Regions from separate parts of the Homo sapiens genome. Here regions 1 and 3 are each linked to region 2. Evidence: fine-mapped expression QTL. A gene starts in region 2. Each other region holds a variant in brackets. All regions are shown on one strand. Distances are from middle to middle.

Region 1 (7,184 bases), 28 kb before region 2:
AAAGAGGTTATTTCTATTATAAAGGCAAATGAGCAAATGAACATTTATTTAAATGTCTCACATCAGAATATGGAAAGAAAGGAAACTGAAGTGAGTTTTATAAGAATCCCTTAAGAAAACACACACTCTCTGATAAAGCACATTTCTAGGAACAGGGCCAATTTCCTCTGCCTTCCACTGTGAACGGTAACATCACATTCAAGCTGATTCTAGAACACATCCACCTCCGACAGAAGGCGGGGCAGACAATGATGGGAGGGTCTGCAGCACAGACACAGGCTCCTTGAAGACGCCCGTGGTGAGATCAGCCCCAGGTCGCCGCTTCCACAGACAGGCCTTTTCCTAAAGTGGATGAAGGGAGTCAAATAGGCCAGGTGGGAAATCAAGGAAGGAGTGGGCGTGTTCCCAGGGGCTGTGGTGGGAGAAGTCACGACCATCTCGTGTGGGTCCTCCAGGAGAAACCCAGCGCCACTCGGGTGGCTGGGGCGCCGTCAGCCGGGACTAGCGAGGCTGGAGTCAGACCCTGGGGGACGGAGTCTCCACCAGCACCGGCAGGGATGGCGTTCCATCCGTCCACACATTATCCTTCCTGAGAAATTTCTATTACTTGTATATTAAAAACATGCTCACTTTTGAAAGATTATAAAATACAAAACACAAGGAAAAAAAGATCTGGAATCCCACTGCCCAGGGGGAACCTCCACATTTTTAGTGTTTTCTGTCTACATTTTCCTGTTGGATAGTGGAAACAGACACCACTCTTCTGCCGGCATAGCAGACAGATCTGTTCATCTTCTACAAATATGGAAATAAATGAACAAAACAGCTGACCACATACTTCTACAGCCAGCTCTTTCTGGGCCCCCACTGCAGCCCCACGTTTCTTCCCGCCTGCCTCCTACACACCTCCCCATCTGTGACCCTCTGTGACACACGTGCACCTCGGAGGCCCGGCTCCTTCTCCAATCAGGACAGGCTGCCCAGGCCTAAGCCTGCCTTCCCCCTCTCTACCAGGCTCACTCCTTGGTTTAGTCCCTCATGGGGGTAGCTGCCTGGGACAAGGACACAGGAAGTGAATTTCCGGGATATAACATGTTTGCACATATCTGTGTCATACACACCCAACTGACGGGTCCCCAAAGGTGCACGTCTGTGAGTCTGTCCTGGTCTGGCCAGTTTCCCCAGATGGGATGAACACAGCCAAGGGGCAGCCAGAGTTCGGAAGAAGGGGCTGGAGGGCCAGTCTGTAGGCTGCAAACTCCCTCGCCCCACGCCACTTTGGGAACAGGCCTGACCCTGACTCTTGGCTGTGGCTTCGGCTGCTCAACCCAGGGCCTCCTTCCCTGAGCTTCTGACTTGGTGGGGAGACAGGGGAGACAAACTCCTTAGAGGGACTGTGAGGCGGCCTCCAGCCCTGCCATCTGCAGGGCTCTGCAGGACCACCTGGTTTCTCCCCACTGCCCTGTCCCTCTGTGGCCCCAGGTCAGGCACCCCCCACCCACCCAGAGTCTGGCTCACGAGGTTCTCCTGCAGCCCCCATGGCTCTCCGGGTCACCTCCCACTCTTTCCCTTGTAGCTTCGTGTCTTGATCTGCCTTTGCTGTCATTCACGCATCTGTCCTCATGAAGGCTTAACCTACCATGTTTATCAGAAATCTCAGCCTAAATTCATTCGATTTTTACCTAGAGATGAGGTGAGTACATGGGGCATGTTGAAAGCAGTCTGTGTTTAAGGTCATAGGTATCTGTATTGTTCATAGGACTCCTCAATAATAGAAATTGTTTACAAAAATGACTGGCTCTAAAACTGGGTCTCTGTTCACAAAGACTGCTGGTTAAAGAGGAGCACTCGTAGACTCACACAGCCCCAGGTCCAACACTCAGAGTCAGCACAGACTTTTCCTGTGCTAAAACACGCCCTGTGAACTCGAACAGCCTTGACAAGCTCTTCCGTAAGGCTCAGGCCTGAGAGGTCCCGACCTACACCCTCCTACCTGGCATGATCTGGGTCCGTGTAGGGGACAGTTCGGATGCATTCACCCACGTAATTCACCGGGAAGGGCATCAGGAAGTGAGTCTTCATCTGCCAGGGCTTGAAGGTGGGTTCCTGAGGGACACGGTATGGTCAGAGGCGGCTGTGCTGCCATGCACCGCCCACGGCACTGGGACTGGACCCACTCAGGGGTCAGAGGCGGCTGTGCTCCCACGCACTGCCCACGGCACTGGGACTGGAGCCATCTCAGGGGTCCCATCTCCGTGACACTCTGCAGCCAGGTGCTGGGGCGCGAGAGCAAGGCACTGCAGTTCCGTCACTCCACACAATTTCTCACTGTAAAACTGACATGAAGTCCTCCAATCTTGACGTGATGCCTTAACGTATACTGTTCAATTAAAAACATTTCATTCTACGCCGTTTATATCACAGTTACATATTTATATTTCATATCATATTATATCATAGGAATGTGTTAAATCACTCTACTCCACAAGGAACCAAACCAAACAGCATCAGCACCAGGCTGAGTCGCGGAAAGGATCTGTCAGACCGCTCCACTGGCATCGACTCAGCTCGGGAGCTACGTTCAAAGAAGGGTGAGTTGCCCGGGAGGAGACCACCCAGAGCAGTAGCCCTCTTCCTGGGCACAGGGAAGACGCACCCCATACCAGGGCCCTCCTCGGCACAGGAGGACACACCCCCACCAGGGCCTTCACTCAGTACTGTCTGAGAGAGAAAAGGCTCAGGGTGGCAGTGACAAAGGATGCACTGAACTC[G/A]CAACTCTAGGGACACGCCAGCCCCACAGACAGGCGGACGGAGGAACATTCGAACATCAGTGGCAGACACAGCCATGCAGGGAAGCACCCACCCGCTGGCAACCCGGATGGGCTGTGGTTCTTACCATGACCAGCTTCCTAATGACCTGGGAGCCATGGGGAACGTGGGCATCTCCACCAGAGCTGCTGGGCACAGGTTTCTGAAAATCAAGTTTCCAAGAGAAAAGAGAAAAATCCAGAACTCACTTGAAATATATAAGAAGTAACAGAGTTTATAAAATTCACACAGCTAATAACAAGTGTTAGGGCAGGTGTAAGTGTTTTAAATAATAAACGCTTAAAAAAAATAAAAATAGGCTGGGCAGAGTGGCTCATGCCTATAATGCCAGCACTTTGGAGGCTGAGGTGGGAGGATTGCTTGGGTCCAGGAGTCTGAGACCAGCCTGGGCAATGTAGTGAGCTCCCATCTCAACAAAAAATTTTTAAAAATTAGCTGGGCATGGTGGTGCACACCTGTAGCCCCAGCTACTTGGGAGGCTGAGATTGGAGGATCACTTGAGCCCAGGAGGTCACGGCTACAGCTAGTTGTAATGGCACCACTGCACTCCAGCCCGAGTGCCAGAGACAGACCCTGTCTCAAAATAACAAAAACTAAAAAAAGAAATAAAGTGAGTAAAAGAAATTAAGAAAATATTAAAATAAATTTTCAGACAGTCAAGGAAAAGGTAGCCTTGTTATATGGTACAAAGAAAATATTTTAACCTTTCTTTCTGCACTTTCTTGTCATTAATCTGTCAAATCAAGAGGACATTTAAGGTGAAAGGGTTGCAGGCAGAGGGGCCTGGAGCAGCAGGAGGCCACCTCCCAAAGGCTCCACTCCCAGGGGCCAACAGAGAGACCACATCCAGAATTGAACCAGGGATACGCAGACACCAACGGAGAAGACATGAGCGTCAACCTCCTCCACGGAGCAGCACGGCTTCTCTACTGACATCCATGAACTAGACTACAACTCTCTAAGTTAATCAAATTTACTAAGTTAGTTATCACCGACATCACTGTTCCATGTCAAATCCATGGATTCATGAGTCAAAGAAACAGCAGTGAACAGCCTTCAGGCTACGGTTTGGGCCATTCCTCTGCCAGCGTATTCCAGCCAAAGTCTGTTTTCCTATCAGACTACTCACTGCAAGGCACAGAAGTGAGCGCGGGATCTAAGGCCACACCGCAGGGTCTGAACTCACTTAACTGGCCCAACACTGCACAAGATACTTAATCCTCCTGAACCTCAGTTTCTTCATCTGCGTACGGGGGATATGAACCCCCACATGCTGGACTGCTCTGAGAATTGAGTTAATGCGTGTAAAACATGAGAGCTGCTCTGGCACCCACCAGGCGCTCACCGGGCGCCAGCACCACCAGTGCATACCTCGACCGTGTGTGGGCGCACAGGCCTCCGTTCCTTTTTACTCCGACCGATGCTTCTAAGGAAGTCTTCGACCGCTTTTTCTGTCTGAGGCATCTGCTGAGGAGTCGCATTCACTGAACACCTGTTTGAAAAATTATGTATACATAAAACCACTGTTAGAAAAAACAGTTTTAGTAATTCATCACATTTTGTATAACTCAATAATGTTGTTTTTATAGAAAATACTGTTCAGAGTGTTAAACAGCAGCCAAATGTGGAAATGCCACGGCCGCCTCCCTGCTCTTCAGTGCTTCAGGTTATCAAGAGATTTCCGCACAGTTCAATGTGGCAGCTAATGAAGCCGTCCATACGCGGAGCCTGTGACTCTAAACTCTAGTTCTTCTGAAGAGCAAAGAAAATACAGAGACTATTAAGATCTGCTAACCGTGCCTTCGGAATTACACTATCAAAACACTGACAACTTTTAAAATTACTGTCCAGAAGTCATCAATTTGAAAATGTGAACTGGTTGTTAAAGCAGAACATTATAAACTGCAAAAAAATACCATGCTCTCAAAGTTACATGAAAATAGAACTCTTCCAAATTCCACAGAATTGCAAATACTACTATCATATAAAAGCTACTTGAACTCTACAGTATATTGACAGAGTGTATATTTTTTCCTTTCAGCTGTAAATCCTGAACTTATTCTAGTTAAAGTAACAGCAGGTACCATTATATTAATACTAACTATATCCCAGGCATGTATGCTGCCTTGCAGATATTCTTTCTTTTATTCCTTACGATAAACCTGCAAAGGAAGGTTTTATGGAGGAGGAAGCAGAAGACGCAAGTGGGTCAGCTGCCCAGGACCGCCTGGGAGCGAGTGTGAGTGCTGACCCGGCGGCACCAGAAGCCAGGCCTGCCTGAGCCCAATGCCAAGAGACCCTGATCGCCAGGCTTCACCTCTGGCCACCCACAGACCGCCCTGTAGAATCTGCCAGGGATTCTCAGGACATGACTGGGGAAAGGCATCAGGACTCTGTGTGAAGAAGGACAAGTGACTTCAGCAAACATTTTCTTGTTAAGTACTGATGAATACATCAATGTCACTGACAATAAGATGCTGAAAATAAACAATCATTTTTAAACTTTATTCATGCTCACACATCTGAGGGCATAAGGCCAACTGAAGGTATAGGACTGAGCTGCCAGATGTTTCCTCAAAGCATCACATAATTTTATAAGAAACTGCACTTTTACTCTGGTCTTCAGCAAGCTCACCTTTACAGATACCTCAGTTACGGACCATGTGCTTTTGGAAGCAATATAACTACTTGCCCTCAATCTATTTGCACTTCTAGCACAAAATTAGCCTGCTTTCTTCCCCATCTCCTACAACTTTTAATAGGCTTAAAATATTTTCTTAGTTTGTTAGAACACTTGACATTTACAATAAATTCTATAACCTTTACCAAGCACTCTATCTTGAAGTTTCTACAAGTAAGAAATACCTAAAAACTATACTTAATAGAATGAATCATAAAATATTTAGAAACAAATCACACATGCACCTCATATTATCACCATTTAACAAGTGTTTCTTGATACGCGGGAGCTTCCTCAGGATGGGTTTGATATCTGTCATTTCTGCAATCCTCTTCATCAGCCGCACCTAAGCCAGAGGAAACTCGCTCAGAGAGAGGCAGAGGCTACAACAGACCCGCTGAGTCTGAACCAAGCACCTGTGACATCAGAACCCTGCTTGGGCAGGGGTTATGTGTGCGAGTGCACGGCTTGGGCAGGGCTGGAACTGGGATGCAGGGTGGTACAAAGAGGAAGATGAGTCAAAACCAACCAACCAATTCTTCCCCATATTTAGTCAGTTAGAAAGTTAGCATTTCTGGGACATAAATTAATGTATTCCCAAAGAAATTAGTAACTCTGGAATATGTGGCTAAACCGGAGTAATAGAGGTTCCTTCCAAGCTTCCCACCTGATCCATCCCGCTGAAGGTCTCCTGCAGGTCCCCTGCGGGCGTGAGGGTCCGGCCTGCCCTGATGGATGCGTACAGGTGCCCAGAGTCAGGAATTCCATTGGCGAGCTCCTGGGCGGTCATCTTCACCAGCACCTTGAAGTGCTCCTCTTCTTCAAAGCACGGGCTATGGAAAAAGGAGAAGAAAAAATTCCTGGAGACCCATTCCTCACGTCCCTTCAGTATCATGGAAAGTTGATTAAGTTTTCAGAGTACTTTAACAACCAAAGAAATTTTATAAGTCCATATGAACTACAAGTAAAAGTCAGACTTGGAAAACAACAACACACACGAGTAAAACTGTCTCCTTTAAAGTACTTCAAACAAAGATCTCTAGTACACCCCAAGAATGGACAACTCTTGCAAATAAAGTTACTTGTTAAATATTTCACTCCATAGCTGCATCATGTCTGGCAGGTTTCGATCCAGGCAGAGAGAGGAGAAAAGCACACCCTGAACCAAAGAAAACACAGAAGAAAGGAATTAGGGCCGAATCGAACAGTGACAGACACTGGAGAAAAGCTTCCCACCGCAGCAGTCGTCTGACGGTACCAGGCTACCTGCTCGTAGGTGTCCATGTGTGAGTCGTCGGGGAGCACGTGGGGAGAAGCACTCATCCCTCCGGTCTTCAATTCTATCTGCTGAGCCTGCTCCCGGTAGTCAAGAAGGCCGCAGCCCAGCCTGACACAGCAGAGAAGCATCGCCCCGATTACAAGTCAGTCTTTACTGAATCATTTTTAAAATCGTGCATCTTGAGTTACAAGTTGCTTCCATTAATTCAATAACTGCGGCTTTGCCAACCTCTCTACACTTCGAAGGTCATAAGCAGGTGCACTCTGGCCTTCGCCCTCGAGAGTTCATGTGCCCCCTTCCCCAGGGAGACCCCAGTTTCTCCCGCCTAGGAAGTTAGCGTCCAGAGGCACAAGACACTTGGGCAGCCAGTGTCTGCACTTAAAACACCATTCTAAA
Region 2 (7,458 bases):
CGAGGCTGCAGTGAGCCAAGATCATACCACCACACTCCAGCCTGGGCGACAGGGTGAGTCCCAGTCTCAAAAGTAAATACGTTTCTATAAAATTTGAGAAATAAAGGAGGAGAATCTACCGCTGTGGGTGAGGCCCTTATTAACAGTAACCTGTACCATAAACCCAAGTGTCTTTGCCTGGCCTTTGCAGGATTTCACAAACGCTCCAAGTCTTTTCATGAGTCCCATGCCTGGACCTTGTCTGGCGCACCCTAGTCACTGCCCTGGCTCCCTTGCTGGAGCCCTGACCGAAGGCAGCCACGTTCTCACACCACCCTCTCCAGGAGCTCTTCCCTCTGCCCCCAGCAGCAGCAGCTCCCACTCCTCCTCCTGCCCTTGTCCTTGGCCCTCCGCGTGGCGTCCACCATGTGCCTCCGGTCACAGCCGCAGCAGTCTTTCTAGACAGTAAGCTGTTTGTCTTTCACGTTTGCTATAACATCAAGCATAGCACAAAGCCAACAGCTGGCCAAATACATGAAGCGTGTCATTTTCAGTTACCATGCTAAATAGAAACAATGCAAAAGGTTTAGGCAAAATAACAAAACAAAAACCAAATGAATCTATTTTAATACAGACCCAAGTAAGTACAGGTCCACAATTGCTTCTTTATCATTCTGAAACCCGAATGGCTCAGAAAACTGAAAGGTTCTGCGGACGTTTAGAGCAAGCTATTTGATGGCAAAACCTGACTAAACAGATCAGGGCAGTGAGTCTTCATGCTCATGCTCAGTGAAACATCAGGTTTGGCTGCAGAAACGCTAGTGTGTCTGATTACAGAGACCCAGCTGGAAGTGTTACTCTCTAAAATCTCACAAGAACCAGGCTTTGCGGGATTCCAGGAAGGGACTGGGGCTCATTTCACTCACAAGCTCTGTTCAGCCGAGTAGCTGCCACACAGCAGGAGCTGGGCCAGGGCCTTGGGACACAAGGACAAAAACGCTAGTCTCCGCCCTGAAGGGCTCCGTACATAGGCCAGAAGCCGCACCTGCAATGTATGTGGATTTATAAGGAGGTGCCGAGGACGACCCATACCTGGTTTACGGTGAATCCATGGATCTTGTCTCCTAGTTTATACTGCAGAGCCCTCTCACAAGCCCGGTTACTGTTCCATCGCCACGCTCTGTGGTGTGCATGTCTAGATTAAAAGTCATCTAAGTTAGATGAGTTGCAGGAAAAGTATCTGGCTAACATTATTCAGCCACATAGTGAAAATACTCTCATGTAATAAAGATTATTAAAGAAAAATTAAATATTGCATCTTCCAAAGTCTTGCACATTCCAGAAAACTGATTTCTGGTAAGGTCCTTTCCATTTTAATGATCTTTATCTTAACTAAAGCTTCAATGTTGGAAACCTTTTCTTTACACTTGTTCACAAATAACTATAATACAATTACAGTTTAAATTCCCCTTGTTTAAGAGACAACTCTTAAACAAAAGGGCTTCTTTCCTTCACAGAATCCTCAAAAGCCTTCACAGTATACCAAGAAATTCACACTACAGTTAAATCCCATTACATGCCTACCGAATTGCTGAAAACTTAAAAAGCCTAATATTACCGGGAACTCTCATACACTGCTACAGGGAGTACAAAGTGGAATAACTTTGGAAAAGCACTTGGCATTCTTTAGAAAGGCTGAAGAGGCCGGGCGTGGTGGCTTACGTCTGTAATCCCAGCACTTTGGGAGGCCTGGGTGGGCGGATCACCTGAGGTCAGGAGTTCGAGACCAGCCTGGCCAAAAATTAGCCTGATGTGGTGGCAGGTGCCTGTAGTCCCAGATACTTGGGAGGCTGAGGCAGGAGAATCGCTTGAACCCGGGAAGTGGAGGCTGCAGTGGGCCGAGATCACGCCACTGCACTCCAGCCTGGGTGACAGAGCAAGACTGTCGGAAAAAAAAGAAAAAAATGCTGAAGATTGGAAATCCATTCACCTCTTGGTCTCTATCGTCCACACCTTACACTGCGGCCCCAGCACTCACAGACAAAAATGTCAGCACGAACCCTGACAGTCCCAAACTCAACTCACCCGGAGGTGTATCGACAGAGAATGGATAAAGTGCGGACTAATCGTTCAATTAAAAAAAAAAAAAAAAAAAAAAAAAAAAAAAAAAAAACCTTACCAATATAAGGGCCTACAGTGGCATGTAACAAAGATATGGGTCACATAACGTGAAACAAAAGATACACATGATACAGTATTATCCTAAACAGGTATTATTCAAATAGGTAACAAGACATTGTCAGAACGCATAAAAATGGTAAAATATTAAAAAAAAAAAAAGCAAGGACATTTCTGTATGTTATGACCGTGATAATCTAAGAGGGAGGGAGAGAGTTACGAGCAGTTAGGGGAATCTTCAACTTGGTCACAGGGACACTAATTTTCTTTTTTGAGACAGATCTCACTCTGTTGCCCAGGCTGGAGTGCAGCGGTGCAATCTCGACTCACTGCAACCTCCACCTCCCGGGTTCAAGCAATTCTGTCTCAGCCTCCTGAGTGGCTGGGACTACAAGTGCTCACTACTACGCCCAGCTAATTTTTGTATTTTTAGTAGAGACAGTTTCACCATGTCGGCCAGGCTGGTCTTGAACTCCTGACCTCAAGTGGTCTGCCCGCCTTGGCCTCCCAACATGCTGGGATTACAGGTGTGAGCCACCGCGCCCAACCTATTTCTAATAATTATTCTCACCTGAATGAGATGGCTCACACCTGTAACCCCGCAATGCGAGAGGCTGAGGAGGGGGATCAAACCAGCCTGGGAAACAGAGCAAGATCCCTGCTCTTAAAAAACACGTAATTATTATTCTCTCCAATTGTATTATATGTCGTATGGGATTTTCTACATTAATGTATCCCACCGAAATATTTATTTTAAAGATAATATGTACAGGAAGAAAAAACCTATTCAGTCACTGGCAATATTATGAAGATATGCTATAACCAACATTTGCTTACTGATTTAGCAAATTTCAGAATTATGGGACAGAAGCGTTTTAAGAAGTTACTTATCAAGGACATGATAGGAAACTCCTGAGCGGTAAGGCCAGGCCGAACTCATGCCACGGACGCCCCGTGCCTCCCGGCCTGGGCCGGCAGCGCTGAACTATTACCTTATATTAAACACGGGCTCGTGGATTACCATGAACACTAAACTGCTTCGTCATTTTTTTCCCCATAAATTGAGTCATTAAAAAAACAAAACAGTTCAATTCCGGGAGGCGTCAGTTCTCTGAACACAGCGAGACTTTAAGTATGGGCTGTGGGCGCCTCGGGTCTCTTAAGGACTCGGCCTCCCAACAAAAATGAACTAGGAGCAAAGCTGTCAGCGAGAACCGCAAATGCCGACCCCATTTACTACCCCCGTTAAAGCCCACGCTAATGGAGGGCCCCGCCGGGAGCGCCGCGGGCAGGCCCGGCCCCCAGCCCGGGGCATCGCCCCTGGGAGTAGGAAGGAGCTCCGAGGTCCTCCGGCCTCGGAGCCTCGGATGCGGGAGCTCCAGGAAGGGCTCGGGGTGCGGGACGCCCACAGCTTGGGGAGCTGCCAGCCCCGGGCGCAGGGACGAGGACCCCTACGCCTCCGGCCTGCCCTGGACCCTCCCCTCCCGGGTACCAGCGCGCCGAGCGCCTCCCGTCGCAGCGTCTCACCCGCCGCTCAGCCGCCTCAGCACACACAGGCCCTGCCGCCCGCCGCAGCGCCACATTGCGCATGACGAGCACCTGGCTGGCGAGGAACCCCCTCTTAACCCGACGCAGGGCGCGGGGCGGGGCTTGCCGTGACAGCTACCACTCCTATTGGTCAACGCGAACAGCGACGTCCTCTGCGATAGGCTGTAGGTGAAAAGGGTAGGCCTCCACTGCTCTGGGACGGGCGGGAGGGCGGTGCGGACGGAGATGGGCGGGAGGGGCGGGGCCGACGTGCCGAAGGAGGCGGGCAAGGCGAGGGGCGTGGTACGGGTAGAAAGGGGCGGGGCCGTCTTGCCGAAAGGGGCGGGGTTCGGCCAGCAGCAGGATGTGGACAGATGATAGGAGGGGGAAGTGGGCAGGCGAGAAGTGGGGCGTGGCGAGAGGCGTGTGTATGCAGATGAAGTGGGGCCTGGTGAAGGGCGGGGCTGCGCTGGTGAAAAGAGGGGCTCCTGGAATGGCGTGCTGTGTTGGGTGGGGCTGTGCAAGTGATGGGAGGGGCTTAGCGAGGGGTGGCTCTTTGCAGGTGAGGAGTGGAGACCAGTGGGAGAGGGGATTGCAAGTGAGCTGAGCCTTGGGGGCGGGGCTTGCAGGTGACAGGGTGGAGCCTAGTGGGCGGGGATGCAAGTGAGCTGGGCCTTGGGGATGGGGCTTGCAGGCGATGGGGTGGAGCCTGGTGGGGCGGGGCTGCAGGTGAGCTGGGCCTTGGGGGCGGGGCTTGCATGCGAGAGGTGGGTCCTTGTGGGGGCAGGGCTGGCAGAAGTGGGTGGGGCTTGGTGATGGACCGCGGTGTTCAGGTGAGGGTAGTGGCCTGGTTGGGGGCTGCCGGAAGCTGGGCCAGGTGAAACTTGGTAGCCCTCTCTGGCCTTGGTGTGGGCGTTGGTCCTGTTTGTAGGGCTGAGCTGAGCTCCAAAGGCGTTCTGCTGCCCCGCCAGGCCTGAACCTTGGGGTCTGGGGGCTTCTTGGATGAGATCTCAAGGCTGCATGGCAGGTCCCAGGGCCAGGGCCCCACGGTGTCACACGTATCACGGATGGCCGCCAGCGAAGCACAGCACAGCTCCGAGCTGCTGCATGGGAGCCTGTGGCCCCCGCTGCTGCCTCCGCTTTCCTCTTCGTTTCGTGTCTAGGAAGATGCACCTGAGCCCCCTGACATTGCCCAAGTGCCCAAGGGCCCTTCTGGGAACCCCCAGAGAGGCTGAAGGAGGCCCCCGTAGGAGTGGGTGGTTCTGCACTGTGGGCCAGAAGGGGCCCTGGGATTAGCCACGCTTGGAGAGGGTGGGGTAGCCCTTGGAGGAAGTCCGCACCAAGTCTGACCTTCCGGGTTTCTCAGAGCCTCTCTTCCTTCCTCCCTTCACCTTCTCCCTCTTTTTTTCCCCTTGTATCACGAATACAAACAGGCTCAAATCTCCCTCTGTCTCCTAATGGGCTCTGAAAAAAAAAATTAAAAATTAAATGGTAAGTAGATGGCTGCAGTCGGCTTGAACAAGCTAAAACTTTGGAAGCAATGTGGAAGGTAATACTGTGGGAAAAAGTCCCAACGTGTCTACCCTAAACTCTCCATAGGGCAGCCAGTTCTGGGCTGCAGGTAAACACGTACCTCCTTATTGAAGAGCCCAAAGGAACCAGAACACAGGCAATAATAGGAGCGACAGACACAAACACGCTCTGCGCATCACCCGTCTTCTAGGGAGAATTTGGGTGTGTGCACACAAAATATCCGATCTAGGTCTCAATCAATTTAGAAAGTTAATTTTGCCAAGGTTAAGGGCATGCCCATGACACAGCCCCAGGAGGTCCAGATGACATGTGGCCAACATGGTCGTGGCACAACTTTTTTTTTTTTTTTTTTTTAATACCGTGTCTCACTCTGTCGCCCTGGCTGGATTGCAGTGGCGCAATCTTGGCTCAGTGCAACCTCAGCCTCCCGGGCTCAAGCGAGTCTCCTGCTTCAGCTTCCCGAGTAGCTGGGATTACAGGCACCCACCACTATGCCCAGCTAATTTTTTTTTTTTTTGTATTTTTAGTAGAGACGGGGTTTCACCATATTGGTCAGGCTGGTCTCGAACTCCTGACCTCGTGATTTGCCCGCCTCCGCCTCCCAAAGTATTGGGATTACAGGCGTGAGCCACCGCGCCTGGCCACAACTTGCTTTTATACATTTTAGGGAGATATGAGACATCCACCAATATATGTAAAATGTAGATTGGTTGGGTCCGAAATGGCAGGGCAACTCCAAGTGGGGGCTTCCAGGTTGTAGGTAGATAAGAAGGAAATGGTTGCATTATTTTGAGTCTCTGATTAGACTTTCACTGAACACACAACTTATATTTGAGAGGAGGGTAGAGAAGCAGTCACTGATGCCTTAGTCTGACTCAGTGAAACAATGGGGCAGAGGAAGTGATCAGATATGCGTTTGTCTCACCCGTGAGCCTCAGGAGGATGACTTTGAGTTCTGCCTGTCCTTGGTCCACAAGGAATTTCCTTGTGGACAAATTGTGAGAAAAGTATGTGGCTTTTTAAAATCCTTATAGCTGTCTTACTTAGAAATAAAATGGGAGGCAGGTTTCACAGTTCCCAGCTTGATTTTTCCCTTTAGCTTACTGATTTGGGTTCCCGAGATATTATTTTCCTTTCATGGGTCATACATATTAATAGGTCATCATAACATCTCTGATCTTGGGGGAGACAGTTGGGTATCATTAACCCTATTGTGAGTGGCCAGGAAAATGAAACACTGGAAGGTTATAGTGTTTTTATTTCTTTGAAAATAGATGCTGTGTAAGTCTAATAATTAAGGCTTCAGAGTGTGTTCCCATAGCATTCAAATGTCACTGATGGATAACCTAGATAAACAAATGCCCAAACATTTACAAATAATTATTTCGAATAGCATTCAACCTAATGTTAACACCTACAGGTAGTCTCAGTTTATATTAACACAAATGACTCCAACACAGAAATTAAAAATCCGAACTTGTCTATGCAATTTGCTATGTTACAAAAACATATCCTATGTTATAGTGAAATTCATTGTTTTAGCGAAATTAGAAAGCAATTTAAAAAAAAATCAGAATAGATTGTGACTGGAACTTAGAAGGGCAATCAAGTGAATATTAAGTATTAAAGGTTTAATTGTGTCTACTCAAAAAGATATGTTGGGGTCCTAACCCCCAGTATCTCAGAGTGTGACTTTGTTTGGAGATGGTCTTTACAGAAATAATTAAGCTAAAATGACATCATTGGGTGGGCCTAACTCCAGGATGGTTCATGTCCTTATAAAAAGGGAAAATTTGGATGCAGAGACAGACATGCACACACACGGAAAATGCCAGGTGAAGATAAAGGCAAATATTGGGGGTGAAACCTTTACAAGCCAAGGAATGCTAAGGGTCACCAGCCAATAACCATAACTTCAGGATGCAGCATGGAACAGACTCAGCCTTCAAGCTCAGAAGAAAGCAATCCTGCGATATCTGGATCCTGGACTTCTAACTTCCACAACGGCGACATAACAAATTTCTTTTTTTCTAATCTACCCAGTTTGCAGTACTTTGTTACCCTGGCTTTAGCAAACAAATACAGAGATGTCAAAGCACTTTTACCTCTGAAAGAAAAATATGCAGTGATTTAACCAAATATGGTGTTTTCCAAGGTTACATGTCATGAACATAATACATGCTTTTGGAAACCCTTTATTTCTGAATTCATCATAAATTAAAAGTGATGATTGTCGGAAAT
Region 3 (7,232 bases), 36 kb before region 2:
GCTACTCAGAATGGTGTGCAATTTAAAACTTACATATTTATTTCTGGAATTTTCCATTTAATATTTGTGGGCCTCAGTTGACCACTGGACCATGGGTAACAAACTGCAGAAAGCAAAACCGTGAACTGGAGGGACTGGTGTTGATGTAGAATCACCATAGGGTTGGGGGATGCGGGAGTCCAGCCTCCCAGGGCCATCTCCCCAAGCAGGGAGCCACGTGCCCACTGCACGCTAAACAAAGTGACTCCTTCTCGCTCGTTTCAGAAATGAGAGCTGCAGTGAAAACTACACCACCGACTTCATTTACCAGCTGTATTCAGAAGAGGGCAAAGGCGTGTTTGACTGCAGGAAGAACGTGCTGGGTCACATGCAGCAGGTAGGCCCGAGACTGCATGAGGGGCCACAAAGCCCCTGTCATGTGACTTTTAAAAGATTAGTGTCTTATTTTAGCCATTGTGGGGAAAAATGTATAAGTAAATTCCAAGATGATAAAAAACATCTGAACTTTTTGAGACAGAGTCTTGCTCTGTTGCCCAGGCTGGAGTGCAGTGGTACAAGCTTGGCTCACTGCAACCTCCACCTTCCAGGTTCAAGTGATTCTCCTGCATCAGCCTCCCGAGGAGATGGCAGTATAGGCACCCACCACCACACCCAGCTAATTTTTGTATTTTTAGTAGAGATGGGGTTTCACCACGTTGGCCAGGCTGGTCTCAAACTCCTGACCTCAGATGATTCACCCACCTCAGCCTCCCAAAGTGGTGGGAATACAGGCCTGAGCCACTGTGCCCAGCCAAAACATCTGAACTTTTAAGTGATGCCAAACATCACCAGCTTTAGGATTCTTTTGTTGGTGAGGTTTGAGTAATGGGGATTTTAAGGGAACTGTCAGCTTTCATGAAAACAGTGATACCCCCATTACTTGGAAATGCTTATTCAAATTAAACACTTCATCAAGTTAAAAACTGGAGCTTCCCTAAGATTTAAAATGGATTATCAGACATGTAGTATACTTGACACCCCAAGTCAGAATGACCTGGAATGAGCTGCACACAGGCACACACGTGTTATGAGCTGAGCCTGGGACACAGGGTCCAGGCCTCCTAACTTGCACACACTCCTTCCTCACCACCTCCTATTCTTATACTTTTAAGCCAGAGCCCATGAATCCCCTGCAATGATGATGAAATAGTAGGCATATGTGTGATCTTCTTAAAGAATCCACAACGGTTATCAGATTAAAGCTGTGACCCATCCCCAGCTCAGATGAGTTCATGAAATCCTGATTTAAGATTTTAAAATAATGAAGATTGTTAGTTGACTTGTTCGGTTTATTAAAATCCTCATCTTACTGAGCGGGGGGAACACTTGATACTTTTTCTTAACAGGCCAAGTTCAGGCTACGGGAATCACAGGTTTTGTTCTGTTCCAACTATAAGGACCTAGAAATAAAAACATGAATTCTGCAAAATAGAAATTGTCATTTCTATTTAACAGCAAAGTGTTACTGTATAACTGGTATTTCATATAACTCTAACCACCAACAGGGTGGGGCACCCTCTCCATTTGATAGAAACTTTGGAACCAAAATCTCTGCCAGAGCTATGGAGTGGATCACTGCAAAACTCAAGGAGGCCCGGGGCAGAGGTAAGGGGTCTGGGGAGGGAGGCCACAGCCTCGTGATGCAGGCCGTCCTGCCTTGGTGAAAATGCTGTCCTATCGGGGAGAAGTAGGGTGCTGGTTCCTTCTTCAGTTCAGTACTGAGCTGCACGTGATGTTTTACTCCTGATCTCTGAGTGTTGCTATTTAACCAACCTTGGATTCCTGGGATAAGATCAGCTTGGGTATGACATGTTCTCTTTTATCACTGCTAGATGCAGTCTGCAGTTCTTTTGTGCAGGCTTTTTGCTCTAGAGATCCTGAACGTTGGCCAGCAATTTCCCCTCACAGTTTAAGTGGGGCCTTCTATTTTTTGAATGTTTGCTAGGACAACCTCCTTGTGACTATCCATCAAAACTTCCAGTTTTGAGGAAGATCTGACTGCTGAATGAATTGTTCATGTTTGTAGAACTGCATGTTCGTAGAACTGTGCATGTTCTTCCTTAAATCAGTTCTGTAAGTTACATATTCTAAGAAATCTTTAAACTGAAGTTTCAAGAAACATGACTTTTTTATAATACTCTTGTTAATGGCTCCAACATGGCTGTTCCCCACTCATTCCTGAGTGGCTCTTTGTGCCAGCATCTTTCTCACCCCCACCCCCCTCAGCTTTCTTAATCAGTCATAGCAGATGTGTGCTTTTATTCCGGCAAACCACTATCACTGCCAGTGTCCAACTTAGAAAAATGACAGTCTATAAAAACCAGTGATGTGAATAGTTTCAATGGGTTTGTCTTTTTGAAGAACTGACTTTGGCTTTGATTCTTTCTACAGCGATTTTCTTTTGCTAATTTAGCTATGGATGCTTTTTGCCTCTCAGTGTGTGTATGTGTGAGCATAAATTAGTGTCCTGTAATTTAAGCTAATTTCCCTATTCCACTATTTAGTGAAAAATTCTCTCCACTGGGAGGAAAAAACAAAAGCTGCTTTCCAGGAAGCCCTCGGGGCAGTCCCACAGGAGCAGAGCTGCACGAGGCCAGGTGCTGGCCCCACTGCGCGGCTGTTCTCAGTCTCACTGGGCTTCCAGGCCGGGTTCAGCATGGTTCTGAGGAATCTCAGTTCTCATCTCGCCCCGTGATTCTGCTCCCCCACCTGCCCATGTTGACAGGGTGTTATTAATCTTTTTTAAAATCTTTTATAGGAAAAAAATTTACCACCGATGATTCCATTTGTGTGCTGGGAATAAGCAAAAGAAACGTTATTTTTCAACCTGTGGCAGAGCTGAAGAAGCAAACGGATTTTGAGTAAGTTGGCTGGGTTCCCTGAGGCAATAAGACCCCAATGTGAGTACGGGACAGGGGAATGGCCATTGCTGTTGCTGTCGGCAACTCATTCAGGGGTTTGAGGAACTGGCTTTTCTGAAGCTCAGTTAAAAAAATACTAGGTCTTGGCTGGGCGCGGTGGCTCATGCCTATAATCCCAGCACTGTGGGAGGCCGAGACAGGTGGATCACAAGGTCAAGAGATCGAGACCAACCTGGCTCATATGGTGAAACCCCATCTCTACTAAAAATACAAAAATGAGCCAGGCATGGTGATGCACACCTGTAGTCCCAGCTACTCAGGAGGCTGAGGCAGGAGAAATCGCTTGAACCCGGGAGGCAGAGGTTGCAGTGAGCTGAGATTGCACCACTGTACTCAAGCCTGGCGACAGAGCGAGACTCCACCACTGGGTCTTCGGGAATAATTTTAAACAATGGTTTCATTTGATCCTGAAATTGGCTTTATCATCTAGTTGATTCAGCCGACCCTACAAACCCTGTGTTTCTGGCAAGACCGCTCGCTGTGCTGGCCAGGCGGAGGCATCTCCCGCCAGTGACTGCAGGCCTCACTGCTGTCTCCTCTTACCTCCACAGGCACAGGATTCCCAAAGAACAGTGGTGGCTCAAGCTACGGCCCCTCATGAAAATCCTGGCCAAGTACAAGGCCAGCTATGACGTGTCGGACTCAGGCCAGCTGGAACATGTGCAGCCCTGGAGTGTCTGACCCAGTCCCGCCTGCATGTGCCTGCAGCCACCGTGGACTGTCTGTTTTTGTAACACTTAAGTTATTTTATCAGCACTTTATGCACGTATTATTGACATTAATACCTAATCGGCGAGTGCCCATCTGCCCCACCTGCTCCAGTGCGTGCTGTCTGTGGAGTGTGTCTCATGCTTTCAGATGTGCATATGAGCAGAATTAATTAAACATTTGCCTATGACTCCAACAGTCCTCTGTTTTAGTTTTTTAAGTAGGAGATTAGTACCTCAATCTATGGGTGGCTACTAAAGGTTTTCTCAGTTTTGTGGGCAAAGATTAGCAAAATATTTTTATAGGGATCACTGAACTATGCACACGTCATACAAGGAGAACAAAGCCAGGAGTTCACACAGGCCAAGGGGAAGGCCACGTTTACTCACCATTCCATATCTGCCATGTGTCAGTTTCCATCCACAGCAGCAGGCCGGGACCCTGGGCCTCGACCCCAGGCTCCTGCTCTCCTTTGAAAGTAAAACATGAATCTTAGTTACTTGTCCTCTTGATTGCAATCCTAGCTGCATGTTAAAACCACCAAGGGGTGGGTGGGGCGGAGGTGGGTTCAAAAATCTGATAGCCAGCTTCTCCTCCAGGCCAAGCCACAGTCCTCGCTGGGACCTAGGTTGGAACTCTCCGGAAGACTCCTGCCAGAGTAGACACGGCTGCTGGGATGACAGCCCTGCTGCCCTGGTGGGCCCCCCTCCTGTAGGGACAGCGTTTCTGCCTCTTAGCTCTAGTCTGCAAGAGAGAACAGCTGCGCCTCAGAAATGGGGGCAGAGAGCTGGGTGGAGGGAGAGGAGAGGCCAAAAACAAACTCTGTTTGGGAAATCAGAGTCCGACAGCCAAGAAAGAGCTAGCGCGGAGGCTTTCCTTTCTGGCTCTGTAACGATGAAGCAAGCGCTTACTCACCCCAACCCACTTGCTTCTCAGGAC[G/A]GTTTCCATGCAGCCGCCGCGGTGAACTCCCGTCTGGTGGACACTCCCCCAGGGCCTCGGTGTGATGGAGTTTCCTGAATCAGCGCAGGCAGACGTGGGACACCCTTGTGCACCTTTTCATTTTACTTCTGTTTTTAAATAAAGGCCCTAAATGCTGCTTAAAATAATGACTCAAGCAGAGGTTAAGTCAGAGTTGCCCTTTATTTTTAGATTCTTAAATATTCTAGAATGAGGTAAAACGAGCCTGCCAGTACAAAGTGAAAATTCTACATGGTGCATCTTTGGCGCTTCATGCATGATTATTTCAATGAACCTCTTCCTGGTCACTCTTAAGATAGATCTGAGTTTTTGACTCGCCAGTCAAGGGCTTTGGCGACACTCAATGACATAATATTCTTGGAAAAAGCAGTAGCATTTCTGACTTTTCATATTCAGCTCGGAGGTGTATTGTCTCGGGCTCCTGTGCAGTCGAGCGCCACGGCTGCTCATTGGATGATCCAGGATGGGTCCTTGGCAATTTTCGGGTTCTCGGGTCCGAGGATGGCCAGGCCGTGTGTGCTCTTCCCAGTGCCGAGGTATCTGAGAGGAAGGCAGGCGTGGTCAGCAAGGACTGGCTTCTGCGTGAGCGCTGTTAGAGTCAGCACGAGGGCTTCCAGTCCCAGACGCTGTCTCCCCCGCTCCCCACTCACCTATCGCTCACGGCCAGGAGCTTGTCGTGGCTGACAGCAAAGAGCTGCTCTCTGTGGGCCTGCTTCATCTCATCCGAGAGGCCGTACAAGAAGTGGTCCATTCCTAGAAGACAATCCACAGGCACGATGGAGCCGCTGCCCGGGAGCTCGCGTTGTGGGCTGTGCACTCATGTCCCGGAGGGGACACAGGCATCTCACTGTCATTTCACGTGCATGTTTCAACCACAGGGATGTGTCTAACAACCCAGAGATCACACCCCGACCTCCAGCTCCCACGTGCCACGCTGACCCCTACCCACGCCTGCTTCTGCAGCAGGGATGCAGTCAGCGCCGCGTGAGGCTGATGATGCTGTGAGCAAAAGCGGCTCCAGAGAGTAACGTGGCCATGCCCGGGCCGTGCCCACGTCCTCCTTCCACCCTAAAGAGCCCGGACACTGCCATGGGTTGGCCCCACTGGGTCTCAGGTCAGTAAAACAAATGACAGGATGCACTCTTCTCGCCCGGATGTCAGGAAGCGTGTTTAGGGTGTCAGACGTGGAAATCGTATCACAAGCAAGGATGGAGGCACCAGAAGCTAGTGCTCCTGCCCATGCATGCCGGGAACTTGGAAAACAGCAACGTCATCTGTGAGGCTGTGGGTTGAGATTCTCACTGTTATACTCAAAATACCTTTGTCTGAAGGAGCGACAGGAGCATCTACGGTTGAGAAGACAGAAAGTTTGGCTTCGTCGATGTCTTGCTGTGTGAATTTTCCAGACTTAGCCCAGTCGACAGCCTTCCCAAAAGACTGGAGCGTCTCTATTGTATTTGGGTCCCTAGGAAACCCAGAGAAATAAACGGGCAAGCATTTTACCAGTGGACAAGTTTATGACAAACCTCTGTCGACTTAACAGTTCAACATCTTCTATGGGTTAACAGCTCTATTTTATATCTGATTTAGTCCAAACAGCCCACTGACAAATCGCTCAATTACTCTCAATGGAAATTTAAATCTGATCACATAAGCCTTTCAACATGTTCTCCCTCTTAGACAAGGTCTGTCTGCACAAAGTCCTCCCTAGATTATTTAAATACACTTCTCTGTGACCTCATCAGGAGAGGAAAGTCAGTGGAGGGTAGGGGCAGGTCAGGATTACAGGGAAATTACAAAGACTTACATGGAAAAATTAAGCAAACAAAGGTTTTCCTTTCATCTCCCTGAAGACACACCCAGGGTAGTACAGGAATCAGCCTGAGGGGGCCAATCCAGACTTCCCTTCGTGTAAATGCAAAGAGCCCAGCCCTCCCTTCACCCTGAGCTGCAGAGGGGCGGCTGTGAGCTGCTTCCCCATCCTTGTCTAGAAGCATGGCTTCCAGCACAGCAAGGGGGAGAACTCATCAGAGTGGCAATGGCTACCTACGTATCTACCTACATGCCTGCCTACCTACCTAATCTAGCTATGCATCCACGGGACAGGGTCTCACTGTCGCCCAGGCTGGTGTGCAGTGGCGCAATCTGCTCACTGCAGTTTCAACCTCCCCAGGCTCAAGGGATCCTCCCGCCTTAGCCTCCTGTAGCTAGGACCACAGGCACTTGCCACTGCGGCCGGCTGGCTCCTTCTTAAAAACTGTTGGAATACATGTTCTCTTAGGCAGCAAAGCCATAGAAAATCAAGAATATTGCTTTACAGTAACGGTGTTATGTTTATGAAAGCTAACAGAACTGCATCCACATCAGGCACCTCCAACTGAAATGAGCTAAGAACGCTCTCAGGCTGTATCAGCCCCCTCACCTGGGGCCTGTGTTTCAGGACCCCCACGGCAGGGCTGCAACCTCAGACAGCCACTATGGATACTATGTTTTTTTCCTATACCTATGATAAAGTTTATAGATTAGGTGCAGCAAGATATTAACAAAATACAACAATTATACTGTAATAAAAGTTACGCTGATGGG

What was found. PIP is the estimated chance that this variant, and not a neighbour inherited with it, causes the effect.
Region 1: its variant is fine-mapped to the expression of PITRM1 in whole blood (TOPMed, PIP above 0.99).
Region 3: its variant is fine-mapped to the expression of PITRM1 in skin (TwinsUK, PIP 0.95).

What each region holds. Positions count from the first base shown.
Region 1 is chr10:3,141,396-3,148,579 of GRCh38, forward strand. It overlaps PITRM1 (pitrilysin metallopeptidase 1), which reads right to left. Exons shown (of 27, transcript NM_014889.4): 17 at 6,776-6,896; 18 at 6,592-6,668; 19 at 6,177-6,342; 20 at 5,755-5,855; 21 at 4,201-4,321; 22 at 2,897-2,971; 23 at 1,994-2,106. PITRM1-AS1 (PITRM1 antisense RNA 1) reads left to right here and starts at 206. Exons shown (of 4, transcript NR_038284.1): 1 at 206-374; 2 at 1,577-1,693; 3 at 2,461-2,591; 4 at 3,576-7,184. RefSeq lists enhancers at 1-447, 448-947. The variant G/A (reference allele first, on the strand shown) is at 2,772.
Region 2 is chr10:3,169,033-3,176,490 of GRCh38, forward strand. It overlaps PITRM1 (pitrilysin metallopeptidase 1), which reads right to left and starts at 3,750. Exons shown (of 27, transcript NM_014889.4): 1 at 3,685-3,750; 2 at 1,072-1,174. The coding sequence starts at 3,740. RefSeq lists enhancers at 366-415, 4,763-5,300 and silencers at 3,275-4,114, 4,405-4,564.
Region 3 is chr10:3,132,939-3,140,170 of GRCh38, forward strand. PFKP (phosphofructokinase, platelet) reads left to right here. Exons shown (of 22, transcript NM_002627.5): 19 at 265-376; 20 at 1,545-1,644; 21 at 2,798-2,900; 22 at 3,512-3,864. The coding sequence ends at 3,641. PITRM1 (pitrilysin metallopeptidase 1) reads right to left here. Exons shown (of 27, transcript NM_014889.4): 25 at 5,966-6,111; 26 at 5,297-5,399; 27 at 4,790-5,186. The coding sequence ends at 5,093. It overlaps SNORD142 (small nucleolar RNA, C/D box 142), which reads left to right and starts at 1,166; the gene lies at 1,166-1,360. RefSeq lists enhancers at 3,045-3,546, 3,547-4,046. The variant G/A (reference allele first, on the strand shown) is at 4,608.